Homo sapiens: one gene and its partner. The protein of the gene in region 2 interacts with the protein of the main gene of each other region in a pairwise test. Each region holds a gene or a part of one and is shown on either strand. Other genes may lie near its edges.

The links. Proteins that work in one complex are often made in the same cells at the same time.
Region 1: the proteins of NAE1 (region 2) and HEXB interact in binary tests that used the Homo sapiens proteins (3 or more experiments, as listed by UniProt).

Annotation. Positions count from the first base shown.
Region 1 is NC_000005.10:74,683,628-74,687,374, forward strand, and holds the start of HEXB (beta-hexosaminidase subunit beta isoform 1 preproprotein), read left to right. Parts: upstream 1-1,605; 5' UTR 1,606-1,633; coding exon 1,634-1,932; intron 1,933-3,747. UniProt on the Homo sapiens protein: Hydrolyzes the non-reducing end N-acetyl-D-hexosamine and/or sulfated N-acetyl-D-hexosamine of glycoconjugates, such as the oligosaccharide moieties from proteins and neutral glycolipids, or from certain mucopolysaccharides.
Region 2 is NC_000016.10:66,817,332-66,821,078, reverse strand, and holds part of NAE1 (NEDD8-activating enzyme E1 regulatory subunit), read left to right. Parts: intron 1-2,441; coding exon 2,442-2,551; intron 2,552-3,591; coding exon 3,592-3,654; intron 3,655-3,747. UniProt on the Homo sapiens protein: Regulatory subunit of the dimeric UBA3-NAE1 E1 enzyme. E1 activates NEDD8 by first adenylating its C-terminal glycine residue with ATP, thereafter linking this residue to the side chain of the catalytic cysteine, yielding a NEDD8-UBA3 thioester and free AMP.

The sequences.
Region 1 (3,747 bases), on a different chromosome or scaffold from region 2:
TTTGAAAAAGAGGAATTCTAGTTTCTATGGCTTGCTCTGGGGAAGAAAGGGGAGCAGGAGAAAGAAAGGCAGGAGAAGGTCAGAAAGATCTTCTGACTCTCTTTTCTTCAGTTCCAAGTATTCAACATGCCAAAGTGCCACACTTTGGGGTCTCATTTTCTGAGGCCCAATAATCATTACATTTCTTTTCTTTCTTTTTTTTTTTTTTTTAAGATGGAGTCTTGTTCTTGTTGCCCAGGCTGGAGTGCAGAGGTGTGATCTCAGCTCACTAAAACTTCCACCTTCCGGTTTCAAGCGATTCTCCTGCCTCAGGCTCCTGAGTAGCTGGGATTACAGGCGCCCGCCACCACGCCCAACTAATTTTTGTATTTTTAATAGAGACGGGGTTTCACTTTGGTGGCCAGGCTGGTCTCGAACTCCTGAACTTGTGATCCGCCCTCCTTCGCCTTCCAAAGTGCTGGGATTTCAGGCGTGAGCCGCCGCACCTGGCCTAATCATTACATTTCTTTGAAGTCTTTCCTTAAAGCTCTTCCACCCTCATTTTCAGAATACTTATATAGCAGATCTGTGGTTTTGGTCTGCCTAGCGTTTTCTCCTTCTGGTAAGAGAACACCTCTTCTCCCTTTGGCATCTCCAGTCCGTGTTCGTCATGTGACTTCACTGGCTCTTCCTTAGGGATGGGTTATGAAATCAAACTTGTCAGTTGGGATCCTTTATATCGGGACCCACACAGATGAGCCAAGATGTTCTCTCTCAGGATTCCTTGGGCATGCTCTGCCCCAGGGAGTTCTGATAGGAAGGCTTTATTGACCACAGCTGAAGTGCTGTTACAGAAAAGCCTAGACTTAGGAGCAAATAAACTCAGCTCTCATCTCGGTTATCTGGTGGTTGGGCTGAGAGGAGAAAGGTGCTCCTCAAGCTTGGCTTCTCCAGCTTCACCGAAGCCAGGGATCCACAGGAGAGCGCCCGTGTTGACAGCGTGAGCGGCGACCCGGTGTCGGCCTGGCGTCCCGAGCCTGTGCACTGGGCCGTTTTCTTTTTCTTTTCTTTTTTTTTTTTTTTTTTTTTGAGACGGAGTCTTGCTCTGTTACCCAGGCTGGAGTGCAGTGGTGCGATCTCGGCTCACTGCAACCTCCGCCTCCCGGGTTCAAGAGATTCTCCTGCCTCAGCCTCCCGAGTAGCTGGGACTACAGGCACCCGCCATCATGCTCGGCTAATTTTTGTATTTTTGTAGAGTCGGGGTTTCACCAATTTGGCCAGGCTGGTCTTGAACTCCTGACCTCAGGTGATCCGCCCGCCTCGGCCTCCCAAAGTGCTGGGGCTACAGGCGTGAGCCACCACGTACGGCCAGCACCGGGCATTTTTCTTACTTTAGCCATCCCGTGTTTGAGGTTGCTGTCTGGGCTCTGCTCCTACCCGAGGGCACCCCTGGAGGAAATTCTCGAGGTGACCTGGACAGGGCGGGCTGGGCGAGGACGCTCCCGGGGCCTGGAGGCGGAGTCGGGGGCGGGCGCGCGCAGTCATCTGACTCGGTGACTCACCCGCGGCCGCGCTTCCTCTGATCCGGGCCGGGCGGGAAGTCGGGTCCCGAGGCTCCGGCTCGGCAGACCGGGCGGAAAGCAGCCGAGCGGCCATGGAGCTGTGCGGGCTGGGGCTGCCCCGGCCGCCCATGCTGCTGGCGCTGCTGTTGGCGACACTGCTGGCGGCGATGTTGGCGCTGCTGACTCAGGTGGCGCTGGTGGTGCAGGTGGCGGAGGCGGCTCGGGCCCCGAGCGTCTCGGCCAAGCCGGGGCCGGCGCTGTGGCCCCTGCCGCTCTTGGTGAAGATGACCCCGAACCTGCTGCATCTCGCCCCGGAGAACTTCTACATCAGCCACAGCCCCAATTCCACGGCGGGCCCCTCCTGCACCCTGCTGGAGGAAGCGTTTCGACGGTGAGCGCTCCCGGCCCGGCCGGGAGTTGTCCTGGGGGAGGGGAGAGGCGGACCACCCCGGAGCGCTGTGCAGACCCTCACCACCCCACTGCGCAGACGAGAAACCGCCTGGGAGCTGGCAGGCGATCTGCCCAGCGCCACATGGACTGAACCCACGCTCTTGCCCCCACCCTCCTACTGCTTCTTAAGGGACACCTTGGGTGCTCAGGAACCCTGGTTTGAGAGCCGGATAGTAAGTGGAAGAGGGAGTTTGCTCTGAGGCCTTGTTGGGCAAATGGCATGGACGGAGGGGACACCGGAGCTGGGGAGGAAAGTGACAGCTCCTTATTTGAAGGACGTGCAAAGGGATAAGTTACCCGAAGGGCTTAGACAAGCTCTCTTGAGGGACCAGGAATCCCCCAAAGCTGACTGTCATTTATAGGCCAGTTTCGCCCCCTCACCTCTCCTCACATCTCCTGGTAACAGCTCAAATGGCAGAAGTCCTCAGTTTCGAGCACTGCCTAAAACTGCCCTCTCTCCTAAAATCTCTTCCATATAAAATGTGACATGTTTGCATCTGACTACGTTTCTGCGGTCAGTGGTTAGGCAGTATCCAACTTTGTTTCTCAACACCGATCATGTTGCCTGCTCTCCCTGCTTCCTCTTTTACAGACCCCTAGATAGCGCCTCTGTCTCTCTCACCCTTTGGCTGCAGACAGGGTGAGTTTTGTCATGGGAGTCAGCCAATCACACCATAGACAAGGCAGGTTCCCCTGGGGAGATGTTTGAAGACGCCACACACTGTCCCCTCAGTGTGAGACCTGTGTAGGTGGGACTGTCCTGAAGGCGTATCGTGCCCTGCAGAATTGTAATTTGGTGCTAACTGTACTGCCTCCTGGCATTCCCCAAGCCTGTCGCTGTACCCAGTGGATACTATAGAGCTTAAGTGTGCTTGCAGGACCCTGAACAGGTGGGGAGGGAATGTCAAACTAACTGAATAATGTGTTCTGACCCCAGATAGGACAGGTGCCTAGGCTCAAGCTGCAGAGGCCCAAGATGCTGATGGCAGAAATGGTTCATTCTCTACAATCAGAAGGCTCATGGTTTCCTTCTGTTTTGTACAACTAAATGGGTATTATCAGTCTCTATTTTAGACACACACACTAATGAGCCTTTGGTATCCAATCTGCTAAGGCCAGAGTGGGGTTAAGATGTAGAACCAAAGTGTTTGGTTGCATTGGGATATTCAGAAAGATTGCATGGAAAGTACATGAAGGTTGTCTCAGAAGATCATGACTAGGGTTGGAAATCTTTTTAAAAACAAACACGCTTATTATGTTTGCCTTGGAGTTCAGCTTGTAGAATTGGATTTTCCTTCTGTGTCATACTGCTAAGTAAAACAAGGACTTGGTAATATGCTGAACTGACTGTGACAAGAAAGCATGGGTGATGTAAGTTAACAATAGGTAGATAACCAGGACTTAAATCAGCTGAGATGGTTCGAAGGCAAGGCTTGGTATTTCAAGGCATGTGCGGGTGATTACCTGAAGAGTTTGCCTAACTCATGGCCTCTGAGTGAAGCAGCCATTAATTATGCCTGGTATTATTAGGAAGCAGGTCATAAAATGTGTTGGCCCTTATGGCTAAGACTTGAAGGCATGCATGTGAGCATTCTAGGAACTCAGAAGGAGCAGCAGGTATCTCAGAGTAAAAGCACAGTGGAGTTGGAAAGATTTGGAAATATGGGAGTGTTCACAAAGTGCGACGTGGTCAGGAACACACAGTCTAGGCCCCAGATTGTTCAGCATCACATAGCCCCTGTCTCTGAAGAGCCCA
Region 2 (3,747 bases):
TTGTTTTTTAAGACAGAGTTTCGCTCTTGTTGCCCAGGCTGGAGTACAATGGCACAATCTTGGCTCACTGCAACCTCCACCTCCCGGGTTCAACTGATTCTCCTGCCTCAGCCTCCCAAGTATCTGGGATTACAGGCACCCGCCACCATGCCCAGCTAATTTTTTTTTTTTTTTTTTTGAGACGGAGTCTCTCTCTTTTGCTCAGGCTGGACTGCAGTGGCGCGATCTTGGCTCACTGCTACCTCCACCTCCCGGGTTCACGCCATTCTCCTGCCTCAGCCTCCCGAGTAGCTGGGACTACAGGCGCCCGCCACCGTGCCCGGCTAATTTTTTGTATTTTTAGTAGAGATGGGGTTTCACCATGTTAGCCAGGATGGTCTCAATCTCCTGACCTCGTGATCTGCCCGCCTTGGCCTCCCAAAGTGCTGGGATTACAGGCGTGAGCCACCGCACCCGGCCGCCCAGCTAATTTTTTGCATTTTTAGTAGAGACAGGATTTCACCATGTTGGCCAGGCTGGTCTCGAACTCCTGACCTCAGGTGATCCACCCGCCTTGGCCTCCCAAGGTGCTGGGATTACAGGTGTGAGCCACTGCACCAGGTCCGTCCAATCTTTTATTTCATTCTCATGCAGGCTTTAGGTTCTCTCAATTCAGGTGCAATTTCACACAACAAAGACATTTACATAACTACTGTTCCCAAGGAAACTGTTGTAAGAGACCAAAGTCGTTTATAGGCAGACCTCCATCAGCTGAGGGTTTATATAAGCCCTTTACTTATAAAATTTTAATCTTAGATGATCATAAAATTTTCATCCAGTATTCAAAACAGTGCTCTTTATTGACTCAAGAAAACATTTTTACTATGAGCCAAGCACTCTGCTAATGTGGTGATAGCCATTGGCATTGGTAGCATCACTGAGGAGTAATATCTGTGTGGGCAGTTAGGGAGTGCTTGTCAGGATAAGCTCTGGCTGCTGGTGGTGAGCCATTTAAGAGTTGAAAGTGGTGTCAACTGATGGGAGGGAACAAAAGAGTTGAAAGTGGGAGAGTGACCATGTAAACATTTTATTTTAAATGGGTCACTTTGAAGTTGAGTGGAAAGTAAATGGATTTAAAGGGGCAAAGATTGGAGGCAGTGATTGCTGTTAGAAATTTCCAGTGGCCTAAGTAAGAGAGAGTGTGTTCTTTTTCCTAATTTAGGGAAGAGAAGAAGAGAGGGTAGATAATAATGAAGGTTCAGCATTACTAGTTGTGTGCCTGCCTTTATAAGAATTATTTCATTTACTCTTTCCAAAACCTTTATAAGGTACAGATTGAGTATCCTTAATCCAAAAATCCAAAATCAGAAATGCTCCAAAATGCAAAACTTTTTGAGAACTGACATAATATTCAAAGGAAACACTCATTGGAACATTTCTTACTTCAGATTTTTGGGTTAGAGAGCTCATCTAATATGTATTTGCAAATATACCAAAAACTCAACAAAATCCAAAACACTTATGGTCCCAAGCATTTTGGATAAGAGAGATATACAATCTGTAGATACTTTAATATCTGCTTTTTATAGATGATGCTGAGGCAATGAGAGATTAAATTATTTGCCTAAGGTCACATAGTTAGCAAGTGACAGAACTGGGCCTACCTCTAAGCACTCACTGAAATTATACACTCTCCTGTCCTCTCTCATGTGGAGAGCAGTGTACAGAGTGAGATTAGGAAGTGGGGAGTTACTGATGTTGGGGCCAAGGAAGCAAGAAGTGAAGGATGCCCATCAGGTTTCTGGAGAAGAAGTCTAGGTAGATGGTGATGCTGTCTATTGAAGACCACAAGAGGAGGAAGGATAGGTTGTTAGTTGCTATCTGTACCTAGGGTTTGTCAATGTTGAGCTTTTCCAGTTAGAACAAATTGTGTTCTAAAGGAATCTTGGTTTTACTTTTACTAAAACTTTATAGTTGACTTAAGATTTCTGCATTTTACTATATGTAAATCGTACCTTAATAAAACAGTGAAAAAACCTGTGGGCCCTGTGTCCATTTAAAAATTAAAGATTTCCTAAGTTTCTATAATTCAATGTATTGTCATCAGTATTGCCAAAGAATTAAGTTTATCTTTTGAGCTGGGCACGGTGGCTCACACCTGTAATGCAAGGACTTTGGGAGGCCGAGGCAGGAGGAGCCCTTGAATCCAGGAGTTTGAGACTAGCCTGGGTGACATAGTGAGACCCTATCCCTACAAAAAAATTAGCTGGGCACAGTGACACGAGACTGTAGTCCCACCTTCTCAGGAGGCTGAGGTGGGAGGATCCCTTCAGCCCAGGAGTTTCAGCAGTGAGCTGTGATTGTGCCACTGTACTTCAGCCTGGGTAATACAGCAAGACCCCATCTCTCTCTTTTTTTTTTTTAAGTGTTAAATTTATCCTTTTGAATTCTTTGTTTCACAGTAATAGAATCTCATCCAGATAATGCATTAGAGGATCTACGACTAGATAAGCCATTTCCTGAACTGAGAGAACATTTTCAGTCCTATGATTTGGATCATATGGAAAAAAAGGTTGGTAGTGTGTGTGACCTTACATTTACAGATAGACTTAAAACATTTTTTTAACCTAAGGTTTTTGAATTACACTAAAGTGAGAAAATCCTATAAACTTCCATATTCCTGTCATCCCGATTACCCAATAACAGTATTTTACCTTGTTTTCAACATATTAATTTTTCTCCAAAATTAAAAAACTTTTTTACTGAAGAAAAGTACATATACTGAACATCTGTGTAATCACTACCCAGGTCAAGAAATTGGACATTAACCTATTCCAGGTGGGGAGATGGGGATGGTTAATGGGTACCAAAAAAAAATTAGAAAGAATAAATAAGATTTACTCCTTGAAAGCACAACAAGGTGACTATAGTTAGTAATAACAACTCAGTTATACATTTTAAAATAATTAAAAGAGTTTAATTGGATTATTTGTAACATAAAGGATAAACGCTTGAGGGGATAAATGCTATACAGATACCCCATTCTCCATGATGTGCTTATTTCACATTGCATGCCTGTATCAAAGCATGTACCCCATAAATATATACACCTAAGTACCCACAAAAATTGAAAGTAAAAAATTTTAAAACAAAAAACAGAAATAAAAAAATTCCAAGAAGTTCTCTTTATGGACTTTTTCTAAACAAATAGAAATAATGACATAACACTATAAGGCGTATATGTATTTTTTCCCACTTCCATATTAATTAACATGCAGTTGCTTATTTGGTTCATCAGAAAACAGAAAAGATCCTCCTTTCTTACTTAGGATTGGTGTCTGAAATTGAGATTTGAGCTGTGTTTTTGGGTGGCAGTCTCTGAGACTGTTTTGCTGGTATAATGGGGACAATCATAGTATATATGTGACATACTAGGTATCTGCCTCTAGAAAAATTTGTAAAGCAGTTTTTATTAACTCAGTTCATTTTCGTCTATTCACTACTCTGCATATATTAGGAGATCATAAATATTGTTGAATTTGTTGAAAACGAGATGGTACAGTGAAGAATTCATAATACTGATATTTTCTTTTATTTGTCTCTCATTTTTAGGACCACAGTCATACTCCATGGATTGTGATCATAGCTAAATATTTAGCACAGTGGTATAGTGAAGTATGTCCTTTTTTAAAAAAAATTTCATATGCAACTGTATTTTCAGTTTCTTACAAAGGATTTCCTTGATGGGGAATGGGAGATTAATTTTTT